Homo sapiens: one gene and its partners. The protein of the gene in region 2 purifies or fractionates together with the protein of the main gene of each other region. This does not show direct contact. Each region holds a gene or a part of one and is shown on either strand. Other genes may lie near its edges. The genes, in order: TPST1, FBXW10 and MGAT1.

Region 1 (3,750 bases), on a different chromosome or scaffold from region 2:
AACAGAAAAAATAATAATATGGGAAGAGATCAAAGACGTTAGCTTTCGAAAGTAAGACCCCTCTTCTTCTGAGATCAGAGGAAAGGATATTAGAAATCAGGTACAGACAGGCACAGACAAAAATGACCTCTCCTTAAGAGTTCAGGGCTGATGCCCACCAATTTATTCTGTGAAGTTAAGTGGCAAAATAAGCAATGAAGAGAAGGCAAGAGTAGGACAAAGAGTCAGAGAAAAATGGTAAAGATCCATAAACAGCCATTTAGATTTTAGGACATAAGAGGAATCTAGAGGTTAAGTCAAAGGATCTCCAGGATCCAGAAGTGCAGAAACAGCACCCAGCAGTTTAGTTATATGATTTTTGCCAGTCTGCCTTGGGAGCCCAGGAGCAGAAAAAGCTGACTGATTCGTCCAGGCTTGAGACCATCAGAGCAAAGGTGGCAAGAATAGTACAGGGCCAATGACAATGCTTTTATCATTTTAAAAAGTCAAACGTATTTTACTCTTTTTTAAAAATCGACTCGCTATTTCCTCCAAGAGCGAGTGTTTGGAGAGGGGGAGGGAGAGGGGTGGATAATTCCTCTCTCACTCTTAGAGGACTTGTCAGAAGTTTCATTCTTAAGCATATTTGGTCTGTACAGCAGCTGATTCCAGGAAATCCAAATCCTGATTCCTCCTGGATCTTAAAAGATGAAAATTCATTGCAGCTCCCTGGACTATCCAGCTAATAGATAAACACGTACCACATTGCTTATATACTATGCCACTTTAGCTGGGAGGTAGGGGCTCTTTCTTTCCTAAAAAGAAAGTTACCCAAACACTGCAGATGGGGATGGAGAGGGGATGGGGAGTAATTACACCGCAAAGCCTGCTGACTAGCAGCCTAAGAATCCTTTACAAAGGCAATTAACATAAAACAATACATGGCACGGATAGCAGAATTGTTTCTTCTTAATGAATGCAGTAATTGACCATTTAATCGCTTTACTGGAGTTCACCAATTTCTCCTGCCATCTCCCATACCATTCTTCAGGCAGAGTCAAATCCCTGTGGACACTGGACTTCTTGCTACCATCATCTGGAAAGTACAAAACGCCTGGAAGGAGGAAGAGGCTAACATGCGTGACCACCCACCATGTGCCAGGCCTACTGTGTGCTAGACTCTGGGCAAGGGACTTTACATGTTATGGGGTGCAGCTCATGTAAGGACGAATGAAGATATTACACTATGGATCTGAGCCAGGCGCAGTGGCTCACGCCTGTAATCCCAGCACTTTGGAGGCCGAGGCAGAAGGATAGCTTGAGGTCAGGAGTTCGAAGCCAGCCTGGGCAACATAGAGACTCCATCTCTCAAAAAAAAAAAAAAAAAAAGCGATGAATCCGGCATTGCAGAGAGTGGGAAAGTGTCTGGAGGTTTAAGAGTAAGAGAAGGAAGAGGAGATTGCGATGGTGGGTGGTCAAAGTGAGGGGAGAAGAGGCGAGTTGGGAAAGGAAGGTGCTTAGGAGCAAAAGGGCAAGACCCAGGGACACCTGGAGCGGGGCGGGCGACTGCCATGCAGACAGGACTACGTACAACGGGTAGGATGATGGGGCGATGAGCTCAAGAAGCGCAGCCGGGGTAGACGTGGGGGCAAATGTCCGATCCCGGCGAGACGAGGGTCTCATCCCAGGGGACTGCGGGGCTAGGACGTGGTCCCAGGGCTGCGAGAAGGGAGAGAAAGGGCAGAGGGGAGAGGCCCCGGCGGCCGGGGCGAAGCCGAGCCCGGGAAATGCCGGCGATGGGGGAAGGGGCGTGGGAGCAGGGGCCGGACGGGCCAGACCCGGGGCTCCGCGCTCGGGGGCGGGGTTGGACAACCGGGAGGCACCGAGCAGAAGGCGACAAGGGGCCAAGGGATGCCAGGACGGGGCACAGGGCCGGGTGTGAGGAGACGAGAGGGGAGCGGAGCCGCAGCGAGCGCCGCGTCCCCCTTACCTGGGATGAGTGAGGAGCCGCCGCGCCGCCTGGACGGCATCCTGGCCTCAGCCGCTGGTCCCACCGCCTTCGGTGGGGGGCCACTCGGGAGCCCGCCCTCACCGCCAAGCGCCGGCAGCTGCCAGCCTGGACCGGCCCCGCAGAGCAGCGCCGTTCCGACCCGCAACCGAAGCCGCCTCAGCAGCGTCTCCCGCGGTCGCCAACTCAGCGACAACCGCCAGGGTCCGGGGAGGTGGCGGGATCACACATCTGCTACGATTGGCTGAGCGGACGATGTGTCGGCTGCTCTGATTCGTGAGTTCCGGCCGGCTGCCCACCGAAGGAGGCGCGGCTGGGAATGGAGCTGGGTCCGGCAGGCGCCGAGGGGCGGGGGTCTGACGTCGCAGCCGGCCAGCGCCCCCACAGCCCTTCCCGTGCGCGCTCCCGAGGGGGCTTCCCGGCAGCCGCAGGCCTGGCCGGGTGGTTGCCCTAGCAACAGCGCGCGTGGCCTGGCTGCAGGGGAGCCGCGGGCAGGTGGCGGTCCTCACCGCCCCCACCCCCAACGTGGGTGTCCCAGAGGCCTTCATCAGTGAAACCCTAGGACAGGAGAAGAAAATGAGCTTTTCCTGATAATTCCTCTCCTCTGCTTCAGAGCCCACCTTTGCCCGCTGCTGGCAGAGAAGCTGTCATCTCCTCGGGGAGATAACGCGCAAATGCAAATAACGAACTCAAACACTATTTCATCCCCACGAGAGTGTAGACGTGCAATAGTCCCTCCCAACCACAGAGGTGGGGGGCTGACGCCCTAAAAGAAAGAAATGAAAACTAGGGAGAAAAAGGCAAAGAAGCAAAAGAAAGGTGGGGAAAGGGCAGATATTTCACAAAATGATCCATTCATTTTACAGTTTCTTCCTACAGACACATCTACACCAGGTTCTGTCAAAGCAATTATTTCTACTCCAGTGACATGGATTAGAGAAGGCATGAGTGCAGAATCTAACAGCTGTATTCAAAATTGCTCTCTGCTAGGCCAGGTGGGGTGGCTCATGCCTCTAATCACAGCACTTTGGGAAGCCAAAGCTGGTGAATCACCTGAGGTCAGGAGTTCGAGACCAGCCTGGCCAACATAGTGAAACCCCGTCCCTGCTAAAAATACAAAAATTAGCCGGGCATGGTGGCGGACGCCTGTCGTCCCAGCTACTGGGGAGGCTGTGGCAGGAGAATTGCTTGAACCCGGGAAGGTAACTACCTTCCTTTGCACACAGTATAATATTTTCAAAGTTCATCCATGTTGTAGCATGTATCGGCACTTCATTCCTTGTTACGGCCGAATAATAGTCCATTATACAGACATCACCTTTTTTTTTTTTGAAGAGTCTCACTCTGTCTCCCAGGCTGGAGTGGAGTTATGTGATCTTGGCTCACTGCAACCTCCACCTCCTGGGCTCAAGTGATTCTCATGCCTCCGCCTCCAAAGTAGCTAGAATTACATGCATGTGCCACCATGCCTGGCTAATTTTTATATTTTTAGTAGAGACGGGGTTTCATCAAGTTGCCCAGGCTGATCTTGAACTCCTGGCCTCAAGTGATCTGCCTGCCTTGGCCTCCCAAAGTGCTGGGATTACAGGCATGGGCCACCGTGCCTGGCTGGACATCATCTTTTATTTATCCATTAATCCATTGATGGACATCTGTTTCTACTTTTTTGGCTATTATACATGATGCTGCTATGAACATTTGTGTAGAAGTTTTTGTGTGTGGCCGGGTGCAGTGGCTCACGCCTGTAATCCCAGCAGTTTGAG
Region 2 (3,650 bases):
TTATATACTTCGATTAGGGCATAAAATAATATAATCAATAATAATGGGGCTGATAATTGGACTGATTTTTATACAAAATATCACTATCTTGTTTTTTATGGGTACATAATTATACATAATTATGGAGTACATGTGATATTTTGATACATGCATAAAATGTGTAATGATCAGATCAAGATAATTAGGATATCCATCATCTTAAACATTTATCATCTCTTTGTGTTGGGAACATTCCAAATCTTCTCCTCTAGCTATTTTGAAATATACAATACATTATTGGTTTTTTGTTTATTTGTTTGTTTGTTTTTGAGATGCAGTTTCGCTCTTGTTGCCCAGACTGGAGTGCAATGGCACGATCTCGGCTCACCGCAACCTCCACCTCCTGGGTTCACGTGATTCTCCTGCCTCAGCCTCCCAAAGTGCTGGAATTACAGGCATGCGCCACCACACCGGCTAATTTTTTTGTATTTTTAGTAGAGACGGGGTTTCTCCATGTTTGTCAGGCTGGTCTCAAACTCCCGACCTCAGGTGATCCACCCGCCTCAGCCTCCCAAAGTGCTGGGATTACAGGCATGAGTCACTGCGCCCGGCTATACATTATTGTTAATTGTAGTCATCCTACCGTGCAACCAAACGCTGGAACTTATCCCTTCCATCTAACTGTATTTTTCTACCAAACACCATATTGTTTATTGTCGTATGAAACCAAGTAGTTACCTGGAGTCTGTGAAAAGTAAAGAGAGTGTAACAACCTTCTAAACTGACGTATGTGACAGGGAAAAGTGAAACCCTGGAAACTGAGTCACATAGCGCAGCTGTTTTCCTGCTCTGGTGCGTGACCATTCCTTCCAGACCTTTGTGCTGAGGTCTTTTCCATTAACCAGACTCTCTATTCTTCATTGAAACCAAGACTAAATGATGTGGAGATAGACACCCTTGTGATTGTCACCTCTTTACAGCAGAATGTTAAGCAACTCCCCTTGTGATTGTCACCTCTTTACAGCAGAATGTTAAGCAACTCCCCTTGTAATTGTCACCTCTTTACAGCAGAATGCTAAGCAACCATTAGAGTGTAATCAATAGTAGCCGATCTAGTCTTACATCTGTATGTTAGCCTTTGTATGGAAAACTGAATTCTGTTCAGCACCTCTGTTTTTGTCTATTTAAAGGATCTTCACTTTTCCCCACTCCAGGAACACTGGTCACTAGTCTTTGGTGCCCCTGTGTCCCTGGATGCTGCCCTCAAACTTTGCACTCGGGTAAACTCTTTTAGCTAGATCCTGAATCTTTTGGTTATTTTAGGTTGGCAATTCTAAGGCCTAGATCCCATCCTGATTCCCCCTCCCACCCACTTTTCCTACTGTTAAGCATTAGCTAACACTCTCAGTTCCCTCCTCTCAAGAGATAGCTGACTATTTGTAGTGTGATATGCTTGGGGGTGATTTATCATTGTTCTCTATAGATCTGTGGATCCAATTTCACATGCCAAATATAGGGCTGGTAAAAGGAAGGAGTCTTGCTACTCTAACCCACACATAATGTATTATTTGGATGTCTTATAAATGGCATTGGCCATGCCTGCACCCCCACCTACATACACACACACAAACACACACACACCTGCTTTATACGTAAGATTTTCCAGCTACAAACATTATCTCTCAGGTCTAAAAACAATACATTCTGCACAGATCATTTTTCTGCTTATAACAACTTCTGTCTCTGTCTTGAAGAAATAGTTATGTAATATATGTTTTGAATTTGGGGGGTGGGGGTATTGGTTGCTTGCTTTTTGTTTCAGTGGTAAGTATTAAGGCTAGTCTTATCTACTGTGCAAAGGTTCTTATAAGTTTGAAAATCTAGCTCTTGCAGGCCGGGCACGGTGGCCCACACCTGTAATCCCAGCACTTTGGGAAGCCAAGCCGGGAGGATCACCTGAGGTCGGGAGTTTGAGACCAGCCTGATCAACATGGAGAAAGCCCATCTCTACTAAAAAAAAAATACAAAATTAGCCAGTCGTGGTGGTGCATGCCTGTAATCCCAGCTACTCAGGAGGCTGAGGCAGGAGAATCGCTTGAACCTGGGAGGCGGAGGTTGCGGTGAGCCAAGATTGTGCCATTGCACTCCAGCCTGGGCAACAAGAGCGAAACTCCATCTCAAAAAAAAAAAAAAAAAGAAAGAAAGAAAGAAAATCTAGCTTTTGCAAACCAGAATGTTCCCTTTAACTGGCTGATAAATTGTTTAGTGGATCAGAGAGAATGGCTCCTACCTTCCTGGAGGGTTAGGATTTATATCCTCAGGAAACCACTGGCCAAAATATTCCACAAACGAACCAGTCCTCCCCGTCTCCCACCACCCCCACCAAACCCCGACCTGCTCTGTGGGTTATCACTGAACTTGCTGGTATTTCAGTTTTTTACCTGAAGAGAACTTGGCCGGCTTCAGGAGTACTCGGGACTTGGGAGGTTTGCCTGGTAGGAGCTCTTGGATCACAGTTTGTTTACTGGATACAGACTCTCTTGGGCTGTGAACCTGAATATTACACTTAGAGAGAATTTCCATGAGACTATTTTCTTCTTTTTCCTCCTCTTTCTCCTTATTCTTCTTTTGTTTCGTTTTTTCCACGGCATACTGCCACTTTATGTGCTCAAACTGGAACATGAGAACATTGCTCTCTGTGTTGACCACCATCCTGGAACCGAAACAACAGGGTTGTCCACAAAAGGACTGTGGAGGCCACCGAAAGATGCACTGCAGTTACCATCCCACCTGGTCTTTAGACTAAAGGAACAGTGCCCAGGTGATGACCAAACAGACTAGTAGTGTAGGCAGCTGGAGGGTGGAGAGTGGTGAAAGTTACCAGGAGATGCAGCAGGAGTCGTTAGCTTTGTCACTCTTTTCTTTAAAAAATAAACATGATCGGGGCACATATGTTCCGATTGTTTCACTTCTCAAGTCAAAATGCTTTTTTATTTTTTATTTTTATTTTTTTATTTTGAGAAGGAGTCTCGCTCTGTCACCCGGGCTGGAGTGCAGTGGCATGATCTCAGCTCACTGCAACCTCCGCCTCCTGGGTTCAAGCGATTCTCGTGCCTCAGCCTCTTGAGTAGCTGGGATTACAGGTACGCACCACCACGCCCAGCTCATTTTGTGTTTTTAGTAGCGACAGGGTTTCGCCATGTTGCCCAGGCTGGGCTCAAACTCCAGGACTCAATGATCCACCCACCTGGGCCTCCCAAAGTGCTGAAATTACAAGCACGAGCCACTGCGCCTGGCCTCAAGTTAAAATGCTTTTAAATGAATTTCTGTTCCTGGAGTGAGTGCCACGTACCTAGGGTGCCAAGAAGGTACTCTGCACACAGATGTCTTGAAATTCAGTGTTTTTGTTTCTTTGTTTGTTTTAAGCACAGCTTCCAAACCCAATATTACTATTGCTGCTGGGAATGAGGAAAGCTCTCTAATGGGGAGGCCTCTTCTCCTTCATAGACCCTCCACGCAGACACCACACACTCCATGCTGTCACTCCAGGATCTCTGCACACACTCTAGATGTAGACAGAACATCTATACTTTATAAAGTGAGATGATTTCTAACTTCTCTGATCCCCACTTTAATGCTCCATAGACAAAGAGCTCCGGAACTTGCCCTCC
Region 3 (3,650 bases), on a different chromosome or scaffold from region 2:
GGCTCGACAGGGCATCCCCGATCTGCTGCAGCAGCCCACGCTGCCGCTCCAGCTCCACCTCGGCGTCTTGGGCCAGGCGAATCACTTCCCGGGTGAGGCTGGCGGGGTCGCCATCGAGAGCGCTGACTGAGGGTGGCCTGCCAGGTGCTGGGCGCGTCCAGAAGAAGAGGAGCAGCAGGGCATTCCAGGCCACAAAGAGGATAGCGCCCCACAGCACAAGCCCTGCAGACTGCTTCTTCAGCATCCTGGCCCCCACCGGGGAGGGCAGGCCAGGGGACGGTTCAAGGCTGCCCTGGGCTTGCCCGGCTCCCTTGCCCGCAGTCCTAGGGATGCCTCCTCTGGACTATGGGATTAGGAGGCAGCCATGCACCTAAAGACAGGAGAGAGAAAGCAAACCGTCACACAAAGGCTCGTGGCTCCATGCCCCACAGGTAGAGGAAATGGGGGCAGGAAAAGGCCAAGAGTGAGGGTGGAGGAAGGCCAGGAGGTTGACTCCAGAGCTCTCTAGGGAGTCAACATATATCCTGACCCAGGAACGTATTTTTGAGGGAGAGGCAGAGAGTGATGCTGGTGGAGGGAGAGAGAAAAAGAACCCCAACTCCCCTCTTTCTACCTGTCAGATTTCATTTCCCCTCCAGGTGGGAAGGAGGAGGGGAGGGGCAAGGAGTGACAGCATCTGCCTACCATTCCTCTAACCTAAGCGCCCCAAGATGACTGATTTTTAAAATCAAATGTCCCACCTCAGGGCTACAGTTAACCCCTTACCAACAGGGAAGCACCAGAGGCACCCCACGAATGTCAGGAGCAAAACGAAGTTGCCCATCATCTCCAGGGTTATTTAACATTTTGCTGGAGGAAGCAGCCAATGCAAATGAACCAAGAAAAAAAAATTCAAAGCAGAAGTGGAAAGGAAGCAAACTATTTCTATTATCTTTACTTGTGAGAATATGCCTGGAAAACTCAAAAAGAATCAATAATGAACTGAGCAAGGAAGTGTAATATAAAAATCAACATATACTAATGGATAGCCTTCATATCCACAAATAACTCATGAGAAGAAAACATGGATGAGAAAACCCTACTTACAAAAGCCAGAGAAATGAGAAAATATTTAGAAATAAACTTAAATAAACTTAAACATTCAAAACTTATGTGAACAAAACTATCATTCCTGAAAGACACAAAAGAACATCTGAATATCCCTTGTTCTTGGTCAGGACATTTCAGCATCATCAAAAATCCCAATAAAAATACCTTTTTATGGAGCTAGACGAACTGACAGTAAAGTTCACATGAAAAACTAGGAAAACAATAAAAATAAGCTGTGAGGAGGGACTCAGCCCTACCAGATATGAAAATACTGCATACTGGCCAGATGCAGTAGCTCCTACCTGCAATCCCAGCACTTTGGGAGGCCAATACAGGAGGATCACTTGAGCCCAGGAGTTCAAGAATAGCCTGGGCAGCACACGGAGACCCTGTCTCTACAAGTAACAATTAAAAAAAAAAAAAAAAAAAGCTGGGCATGGTGGCACGCACCTGTGGTCCCAGCTACTCAGGAGGCTGAGATGGGATCACCTGAGTCTGGGAGGCTGAGGCTGTAGTGAGCTGTGATTGGATTGTGCCATTGCACTCCAGCCTGGGCAAGAGAGTGAGACTCTGTCTCAAAAAAATTTTTTTTTATTATATATATATATATATGGCATACTACAAAACCTCCATAATTACAACTGCGTGGTACTGGTACATAAATAAACAGACCATCCAGTGAAATAGAATTTAAGCTCCAGAAACAGACTCATTACACAAAAAAATCTAATATGTAATAAAGGTGCTACTTAAAATTCCCAAGGCAAAGATGGTCTTATTAATAGTGTTATAATAATTACGTAGCTATGCTATAGCTTGAATATGGTTTGTTCTCTGAAACACATGTTGGGATTTGATCCCCTGTGTGGTGGTGCTGCCGGAGGTGGGGTCTAGTGGTAGGTGTTTGGATCACAAGGGGGGCAGGGGCAGATCCTTCCTAACGTCCTCTGGTGAGTGAGCTAGTTCCCCAGGGATAACAGGCTGTTATAACCAAGCCCAGTCTCTCCTGCATGCCCCATTTCTTTCTACTTTCAGCCATGTCCCTACAAAAACCTACACAGGAGTGTTGATGGTAACTTTATTCATAATCACTCAAAACTGGAAATAACCCAAAGGCCCATCAACAGGGAAATACAGATAAACAAATTGTGGTTTACTCATAGAATGGAATAATATTCAGCAATAAAACTGAATAAACCACTGACATACACAACACAATCTCCAAATAATTACACAATATGGGTCTTTTTGGGAAAAACAAAAAAGAGCACATACACTGTGATTCCATTGACATAAAACTGCCGAAAATAGAAACTAATCTATATTACAGAAAGCAGATCAGTTGTTGCCTGGGGATGGAGGCAGAGAAGGGCAGTAGGGTAGTTACTACACAGGGGCATTAGGAAGCTTCTAGAAGGGTGGATATGTTTATTATCTTGATTGTGGTGATACTTTTACAGGTATATATATATATATATATATACACACACACACATATATGTCAAAACTTATCAAATTGTACACTTTATATGCAGTTCTTTGCACATATTGATATCAATTGTATGTCAATGAAACCTCAAAAAACTTTTTTTAAAAAGACGTTATTGGGTAAAATGACAAAGGTGGAATATGGACAGTAGGTTAAAGTATCAGTGATAACTGATTAATTCCAATTCTTAGGTAATACACACTGAAGTATTGAGAAGTAGAGGACCAGGATAGATGCAACTTCTCAAATGGTTCAGAACAAAAACATACTCTGCACACATAGAGAGCAAATGGAGCAAAATATTAACAGGTGAATCTGAGTAAAGAGAGTGTGTACGAATATCCTTATACTATTTTTTATTCTTGCAATTTGTGTAAGTTTGAAGCTATTTCCACACGAAGTTTCTTGACAATCAAATATGTAGATATTGCCCATAGCTCTGAAGAGCTTCATCCATCAGCGTAATCCCAGCTGGCACATCAGCAAGGCAAATTGAGATGATCTGTTTGCCCTGAATTCCTCGGTCAGTCACCTGACGACGTGTATCACACACCTGCTCTCTGCCAGGCTCTGGGAAGGAACCAGGACACAAACCAGTGAGAAAAAGGCATGGTCCCACCAATCCTCCAAGCTCTACCAGACCACATTACTTGAAAGGATCTGAAACACTCCCCAATTCCCAGCCAGCTGCCACTCCAGACCATAACTCCTTGACTGTCCTGCCTCTGGTCTACCCTTTACACCCCAAAGCTTCAGGCGTGCACCCTCTTACACCAACAGCTCTGCCAGTTGCCCTCTGCCTCACAGGCTACTCTCTAATCCTGGCCAAAACCTTGGGCCTCAGATCTAACCTCTGAGGCTCTGGGCTCTCAAACCAGCAGATCTGGTATAAAAGGGCTGATCCTGAAGGGCCTCTAAAGAGACATGGATTCTGTCTCCCTCCTGGGGAGACTTCACCAGCCCCTGCCAGCATTCACCACCAACCACTTGTCTTCTTCCTAGAAACCAACCACCCCCACCACGCCAGGACATCAGTCTTCTCAGAAACGTCAAGTCTGTTTCCATGTAACTG

What was found.
Region 1: the proteins of FBXW10 (region 2) and TPST1 purify together in Homo sapiens (affinity purification with mass spectrometry, with the first as the bait; one study listed by BioGRID). This does not show direct contact.
Region 3: the proteins of FBXW10 (region 2) and MGAT1 purify together in Homo sapiens (affinity purification with mass spectrometry, with the first as the bait; one study listed by BioGRID). This does not show direct contact.

Annotation. Positions count from the first base shown.
Region 1 is NC_000007.14:66,203,742-66,207,491, reverse strand, and holds the start of TPST1 (protein-tyrosine sulfotransferase 1), read right to left. Parts: upstream 2,159-3,750; 5' UTR 1,970-2,158; exon of another isoform or gene 1,571-1,969; intron 1-1,570. UniProt on the Homo sapiens protein: Catalyzes the O-sulfation of tyrosine residues within acidic motifs of polypeptides, using 3'-phosphoadenylyl sulfate (PAPS) as cosubstrate.
Region 2 is NC_000017.11:18,771,454-18,775,103, reverse strand, and holds part of FBXW10 (F-box/WD repeat-containing protein 10), read right to left. Parts: intron 2,693-3,650; coding exon 2,421-2,692; intron 1-2,420. UniProt on the Homo sapiens protein: Probable substrate-recognition component of a SCF (SKP1-CUL1-F-box protein)-type E3 ubiquitin ligase complex which mediates the ubiquitination and subsequent proteasomal degradation of target proteins. Overexpression is leading to degradation of CBX5 and CBX1.
Region 3 is NC_000005.10:180,792,728-180,796,377, forward strand, and holds part of MGAT1 (alpha-1,3-mannosyl-glycoprotein 2-beta-N-acetylglucosaminyltransferase), read right to left. Parts: intron 3,149-3,650; exon of another isoform or gene 2,154-3,148; intron 1,640-2,153; exon of another isoform or gene 1,540-1,639; intron 371-1,539; 5' UTR 245-370; coding exon 1-244. UniProt on the Homo sapiens protein: Initiates complex N-linked carbohydrate formation. Essential for the conversion of high-mannose to hybrid and complex N-glycans.